Linked DNA regions of Homo sapiens. The protein of the gene in region 1 purifies or fractionates together with the protein of each later gene. This does not show direct contact. Each region holds a gene or a part of one and is shown in the gene's direction. Other genes may lie near its edges.

Region 1 (3,550 bases):
ACGAATGACATAGGGTCCTGAATTGAAAAACTAATTCCCTCAAAATAGATCCTGAACATGACCTGTGCTCCTTCCACTGTTCTTTAGGCACTTCTCTTGATCTAGAAGTTCTTTTTGGCATCTACTCTAAATCTTTCACGTTAAATAGCTCCAGCCCATTTCCTGTTTTGAAGAAGAGGAAACTATGAAGATTCCTGTACATCATTCAGATCCTACTTGAAGGCTGTTTGGTGGTGGTGGTGGTGGTTGGTTGATCTTCAGCCTTCCCCTGGTTGAGTATTCCCAGCTCGCTTCAACTTTCCCCATAGAAACTTTAACCGTCAAGTTCCTGTATGCTCATTGTTCTCTCTGTGTATGCAAGCCACCACCAAGGCCCTTTCCGTTTTCCTGGTGGCTTCTTAGTTTCCTTTTCTGATTCCCAGGTCACTCTTTGGTTGTGGAATCAGAAGAGTATACGTAGTCAGGTTTAGATACCCCAGGTTTACACCCTTAACCATCCACATGGGGAAAGAAAATCATCTTTCTTAAGGTAGTGGCAACCTGTTCAAGGAGTGGGGTGATCATTCCCAAAGTGCCAGATCTCCAGCTGCAGAGTAGACATGGTCTTGGGGCTTTGTCCCCGTAAAGGGCCCCTGACGCATCTGATCTCAGCTTGGTTTCCCCACTTCGGTTTCTTCTTGCAGAATAAGATCCAGCAAATTGAGAACCTGGCTTGCATCCCCTCCTTGCGGTATGTGGTGCCAGGGCTCAGGCAGGGGAAGAGGGGTTGGGGGAACCTAGCCATATCCCAAAGAACTGGTTCAGATTTCTCCAAGCCTGGGTCCTTGTCAGTCAAGGACCAGCAAGCCTAGATCTACTCCCTCACCCCAGAAGGCCATGTGTCCCCACTGGTCATCAGCTGCCTAGCCCAGGGGCCCCGGTGTCAGGTGCCCTCCTCTTTTCTTCCAGCTGTTCCATGATTCAGCTCTGCCTCTGTACCCCTTCCTTCCCCTACAGCTTCCTGTCTCTGGCAGGAAACCAAATCAGGCAGGTGGAAAACCTCCTCGACCTCCCATGCCTCCAGTTTCTGGACCTTTCTGAGAACCTGATAGAAACATTGAAGCTGGGTAGGAACCCACTCGCCCTGGCTCACCAAACACATCCCCTGTGGGGCCTGCCCTCCCCTCTGCACCCATCTGCCCATGCTTCTATTAGCCATGCCCCTGCAGGTCCACATTTCATCCTCAGGGAGTTCAAGGGGTTGTGCCTAGAGGTACTGGCTTTGGACTAGAAAGTGGGTATGAGAACCCCATTCCCATCGCTTCATGGTCTTTTGGCTAAGATCAAGTGAGAACCCCATTTCCTCTCTCTTTGCTGTGTGCAGATGAGTTCCCCCAGAGCCTTCTCATCCTCAACCTGTCTGGAAACAGCTGCACCAACCAGGATGGCTACCGGTAAGGAGTGGAGGGTGGGAAGAAAGGTCATGGCTGAGCTCTACCTGCTAACTCAGCCCAGACCCCTCTCAGCCTGCAAACCTGGGGTCCTGTCCATGACACCTTCTCCCCCACCTCCTACCTAGCTCATGAGCCACCACCCCTCCGGGTGTGAGTGCTGTGGTGCGTGTCTTTGCATCCTCCACGCCAGGGTGCCCTCCTGGGTAACCTCTGCTCCTTCTGCTCTGCAGCGAGCTGGTGACAGAAGCCCTGCCACTTCTCCTGGACCTGGACGGGCAGCCTGTGGTGGAGCGCTGGATTTCGGATGAGGAGGATGAAGCCTCAAGCGATGAGGAGTTCCCAGAGCTGAGTGGCCCATTCTGCTCAGAACGAGGTGACCCTGCTTTCCAAGGTTTTCAGCCTCCCCAGAGCCCACCTCTGCCCTGTGGGACATGAGGGAAGCTAAGGTGGCAGTGGCGTCCGGGGAGGGGAGCCCCAAGTTCAGATCAACATCTGGGCCAGAGCCAGGTGTCAGTCCTGGGCCCCAGCCTCAGGCTCCTTCCCACAAGGGACAAGGGGCCAGCCAGAGACTTCCCTGAGCCCAGGGACCCTCCTGCTGAGCCCAGGGCTCCACCCACCCTGTACCCTCCACCCCCGGCCCCTCCCAGGCTTCCTCAAGGAGCTGGAGCAGGAGCTGAGCAGGCACAGGGAGCACCGGCAACAGACGGCCCTGACAGAGCACCTGCTGAGGATGGAGATGCAGCCCACCCTCACCGACCTGCCCCTGCTACCTGGGGTGCCCATGGCTGGGGACAGCAGCCCTTCTGCCACTCCTGCGCAAGGGGAGGAGACAGTCCCTGAGGCCGTCTCCTCACCCCAGGCCTCCTCTCCCACCAAGAAACCATGCAGTCTGATTCCCAGGGGCCACCAAAGCTCTTTCTGGGGAAGGAAGGGGGCACGAGCAGCCACAGCCCCCAAGGCCTCTGTGGCTGAGGCCCCCAGCACAACCAAAACTACGGCCAAGAGAAGCAAGAAATGATTCTCTGTCAACCTTTCTCTACTAGTGGAGAGGAGTGGGGCCTGCCCCTCTTCTCAGACCTCTGACCTGTGACAGAAGCCCATCCCCAGTAAAGTGTCTCTAGGCCCTGAGTATGCTTTTCATGTCACTTGGGGTATCTCAGGGGAAGAAACCAGTGAAAGCTCCAGGAAACAAAATACAGAGCTCAGTGAGCCACCTGATTCTAAAGAGCGAGTCTGGAATCTTTCGGGAGCTACCCACAGGGCAGGCATGCCTCAGGCCCCCGCTGGCTTCCTGGCTCCCACTTGGGCAGGAAGCGGGCACCACCTCATGGAAGAGGCATGCCATCTCACTGCCACCCCTAGCGAGTGCCCTTCCCCGGTCCAAGCCAAGGACCAAGGAGCTGTGGTCCTAGTCATCCCCAACAGCAGCCAGCTCCTGTCCCCTCCCTGTCCTCCTGCCCAGTCCCCATCACTCACCCACTCATAGGAATGAGTACACAACCACAGGCCCCGCAGCCAGCCCACAGCTGCCTTTGGGCCTCACTTGGCTCTCCCACCCCCACTGGTCCTGGGATAAAGTTCACTGAAGAGAAAATAAAGCACATTTATTAAGGCAAAGGCCAAGCTGGCCGCTCAGAACATGGCCAAGGAGCGTGAAGGGATTGCTCCACTTTACCACCACTCAGGGCACCCAGGCCCCAGGGGTCCTGGGTCCACCCCAGGCCAGCAGAAGCTATGAAGCTTACGCATAAGCCTGGCTCTCCCTCTTCACGAAGGCCTGGAAGAGGCTGCCCAGCTCCCAGAGGGGTGGGGCCCACTCGCCGGCCAGCAGCCCCTGTGTGGCCTCGAGGCCTTCCTGCTCCAGATCCTGCTGTTTCTGCTGGAGCTGCTGCCCCCGATCCTGCCCCAAGGGAAAGCTGAGATGAGTCTGTCCGGGACAGGCTTCCCGCCAGGTGAAGGGGGGACTGTGTACCACCTCACACAAGCAGGAGAAAGGAGATACCCCCCGACATTCCCCAAAGGCAGTTGCTGGCTTTGAAGGGAGGAACTCCTCTCCCCAGCTCTGAAATCTCTTCCACTCCCTAGTTCCTTCATATTTCCAGAGTCCCACTGGGAGT
Region 2 (3,673 bases), 2.7 Mb from region 1:
GAGGCACTGTGCTGAGCTTGCATCAGACCTGATCCTGCTTAATCCTCAGGCATCCCTGTGCGGGAGGTGCTGTCCTCATGTCACATTACAGACGGGAAGCTCAAGGCGGAGGGGTGAAATCACCGCCCAAGGCCACATGCCTGCCTGCTGCCAGAGCCTAGTTTTCCATGATGGCTCCCAGTGAATACTTTTTGTTGTTGCTGTTGTTGTTAGTTGTTTATGAGACAGGGTCTCATTCTGTCACCCAGGCTGGAGTGCAGTGGCATGATCATGGCTCACTGCAACCTCAAATTCCTGACCTCAAGTGATCCTCCCACCTCAGTCTCCCAAGTAGCTGGGACTCAGGAGACTGGGAGACTGGGTACCACCACATCCAGCTAATTTTGTTTCTGTTTTTTGTAGAGTTGGGGTCTCACTGTGTTGTCCAGGCTGGTCTTGAACTCCTGGGCTAAAAGAATCCTCCTGCCTTGGATTCCCAAAGTGCTGGGATTACAGGTGTAAGCCACCATTCTTGGCTAGCCTGATGAATACTAATGAACAATTTTGTCACTGTCCCAGGCGCTTTTCGCATATTATCTCATGTAATGCTCACACTAATATGAGGTAGGTGGTACCAGTAGCCTTCTCTTACAGATGAGGAAACTAAGACTCAGAGAGATTTGGTAACTTGCCTAGGGTTCAAAGCTGGGAAGTAGCTGAGAGAAAATTTGAACCCAGGCAGTGTGGCCCAGAGTCCGTGCTTGTCACACAGTGACTGATAGAGAAGCTGATACCTGCAGGGGGCCTCCTGGCCGCTCCTCTCCCATGGGGGCCCTGCCAGCCCCCAGGAGCGTCCTCACAGGGCTGCCAAATAAAATACAGAACACCCGGTTAAGTTTGGAATTCCGCTAAATGCGGAATATGGAATGTATTTATACTAAAAAATTATTCTTTATCTGAATTTCACATTTAACGGGTGTCCTGGATTTTCTCTGGCCACCCTGTGTCCCCACAGCCCCGTGTGTGCCTGTGCCCTGATGCTCCGCCCCTGCCCCTCATCCTCCCCATGGGCAGAGGCCTGAGTGGGCAGAATCCTGCCCCCTTGCCTCCCCAGCCTACACACACTACCAAGTGCCCCTGAGCGAGAGGGCTCGGCCCATGGCCTGCCTGGGATGTCTTCCGCAGGGTGAGTGGGACTGCTGTGGGTGACTTGGCAGGTGAGGGTCTTCAGAACAACCCCCAGCCCTGGCAGGTGCCTGGCCTGGGTGGTGGGTAAGCTGGGTGGCCCTCCAGTCTAAGCAGGGGCATGCCAGGTGGGACTAGGGGGCTGGCTCTGCCAGGCCCTGTGGTCCCCCTCACATCTTTCCCTGTCCCCTACCCTGACTTCCGCACCCAACCAGGTTTCATGCCTGTTCTGGCCCCAGAGAAAAGGGTGCTGCCACCCCCACTTGCTGTGTCCCACCCGGGGCCAAGGGAAGCACCGCCTGCCTTTCCTGACTTTGTTGATTCTCCAAGGAATGTTATGGACTCTGGCACCGAGCCCCCGCCAGGCTCCAGCCCTGGGTGTGGCAGCCAGCTGGGTCACGGGGGACATGCTTGGTGCCTGAGGTGTGGAGGCTGCCTGCTGGCTAAAGGATTAGGGTGGGAGGGTCTTTGGGACCCCTCGCCATTGTGTGTCCTCTCCTAGAGCCTCACAGCCCCGGCCACCTGGAAACGCTCTTTCTCTACTCCCTGCTCGGCCTTGGCCACAGCTGCTGGCTGTAGCAGTTCCCTGCATGACTCGCATTCCTGTGGAGCCCTGTGTGCACCTCCCGAGTGCGAGCCGCCTATTTCCCCCTGGCTGGCCCACCTTCCACCCTCTCCACCCATGAACCCTGTACGCACACACACACTCACACGCACACACTCACACACATTCACTCACACTCATACACACACACTGTCTCACGCACACACACACTCCCCACCTATGCATACACCCCACACACACCCTGCCCTGCCTGCATGCCACCCCTCCGGGACACGCCTGGACAGAACTCCCACCCTCCCTGCCAGCTGCCCTGGCGCCTGTCTCCACTGCACAGCCTCTATATCCATCCCTGCCTGGGGGCGACCTGCACTATCTTCAGCACACAGGGCTTGTCCTCTCTGAGCTCAGTGGTGCACCTGTGAAAAGGGTGGGATTTGGGGCCCCTTCCAGCTCTGACATGAGGTAGTTTCTGGTCCCTGGTCTTGGCTACCCTTACAGAACTGCTCAGGCCCCAGACCATCCACGCCCCAAACCGCCCGGGCTGCAGGTGGAAGTTGAGAAACTGGGCCTGCCCTTTCCTCAGCACGCCTGACCCCTCTCTGAGGCTGAGATAAGCGGGCAGCTTGGGAAGGTGTCTGAGCCCCAGCTGACAACACTGAATTGGGCGGGAGGTGCCGCTGTCCTGGTCTGGGGAAGGTACCCCCTGGAGGCCATGGGACTAAGGGGACAGATGGATCAGAACACGTGGGTGCCTCTTTCCACCCGGGGCACTAACTCACTTCCCCAGAGCCCTGCCTCAGTTTCCTTCTTTGTGATCATTTACTGAGCACCCACTATGGGCCAGGCCTAAACCAGGCTCCATGTGCTTGTGCCTGTTGTGGCCACACACAGCCCTTTGGGGTCAGACTCCCCCAACTTCCACCACATTTCAGCCCCACCGGGTGCCGACCTGGCTGTCTGCTTCTTTAACAGCATTTTTGAGATATTCATTCACATACCTTATAATTTATCCATTGAAAGTACACAGTGCGGAGCACTTTGGGAGGCAGAGGCTGTTGAATCACTTGAGGCCAGGAGTTTGAGACCAGCCTGGGCATCATAGTGTGACCCCAACTCTACAAAAAAATTTAAAAATTATTCAGGCCTGGTAGTGCAAGTCTGTAGTCCCAGCTCCTCGGGAGGCTGAGGTAGGTGGATTGTTTGAGCCCAAGAGTTTGAGGCTGCTGCAGTGAGCCATTATTGTGCCACTGCACCCCAGCCTGGCTACAGAGCAAGACCCTGTCTCAGAAAAAAAAAAAAAGTATACAATGGTTTCCAGCATATTATATCATTAAACTTTAAAAATTATGGTAAAATAGGCCGGGTGCTGTGGCTCACGCCTGTAATCCTAGCACTTTGGGAGGCCGAGGCGAGTGGATCACTTGAAGTCAGGAGTTCGAGACCAGCCTGGCCAACATGGTGAAACCCCATCTCTACTAAAAATACAACAATTAGCCGGAAATCACTTGAACCCGGGAGGTGGGGGTTGCAGTGAGCTGAGATCGTGCCACTGCACTCCAGCCTGGGCAACAGAACGAGATGCTGTCTCAAAAAAAAAAAAAAAAAAAAAAAATAGGCTGGGCGCAGTGGCTCATGCCTGTAATCCCAGCACTTTGGGAGGCTGAGGTGGGCGGATCATGAGGTCAGGATATCAAGACCATCCTGGCTAACACGGTGAAACCCCGTCTCTACTAAAAAATACAAAAAAAATTAGCCAGGTGTGGTGGCGGGCACCTGCAGTCCTAGCTACTCAGGAGGCTGAGGCAGGAGAATGGCGTGAACCCAGGAGGCGGAGCTTGCAGTGAGCCAAGTTCGTGCTACTGCACTCCAGCCTGGGCAACAGAGCGAGACTCCATCTCAAAAAAAAAAAAAAAATATGGTAAAATATATATAATGAAATTGGCC

What was found.
Region 2: the proteins of LRRC46 (region 1) and PLCD3 purify together in Homo sapiens (affinity purification with mass spectrometry; 4 studies listed by BioGRID and IntAct, with this or other methods). This does not show direct contact.

What each region holds. Positions count from the first base shown.
Region 1 is NC_000017.11:47,834,670-47,838,219, forward strand, and holds the end of LRRC46 (leucine-rich repeat-containing protein 46), read left to right. Parts: intron 1-683; coding exon 684-730; intron 731-996; coding exon 997-1,106; intron 1,107-1,363; coding exon 1,364-1,433; intron 1,434-1,663; coding exon 1,664-1,806; intron 1,807-2,080; coding exon 2,081-2,451; 3' UTR 2,452-3,050; downstream 3,051-3,550. Other genes in the region: SCRN2 (secernin-2), read right to left, coding at 3,175-3,333. UniProt on the Homo sapiens protein: Required for normal spermatogenesis and male fertility. Plays an important role in sperm flagellum biogenesis.
Region 2 is NC_000017.11:45,126,016-45,129,688, reverse strand, and holds part of PLCD3 (1-phosphatidylinositol 4,5-bisphosphate phosphodiesterase delta-3), read left to right. Parts: intron 1-3,673. UniProt on the Homo sapiens protein: Hydrolyzes the phosphatidylinositol 4,5-bisphosphate (PIP2) to generate 2 second messenger molecules diacylglycerol (DAG) and inositol 1,4,5-trisphosphate (IP3).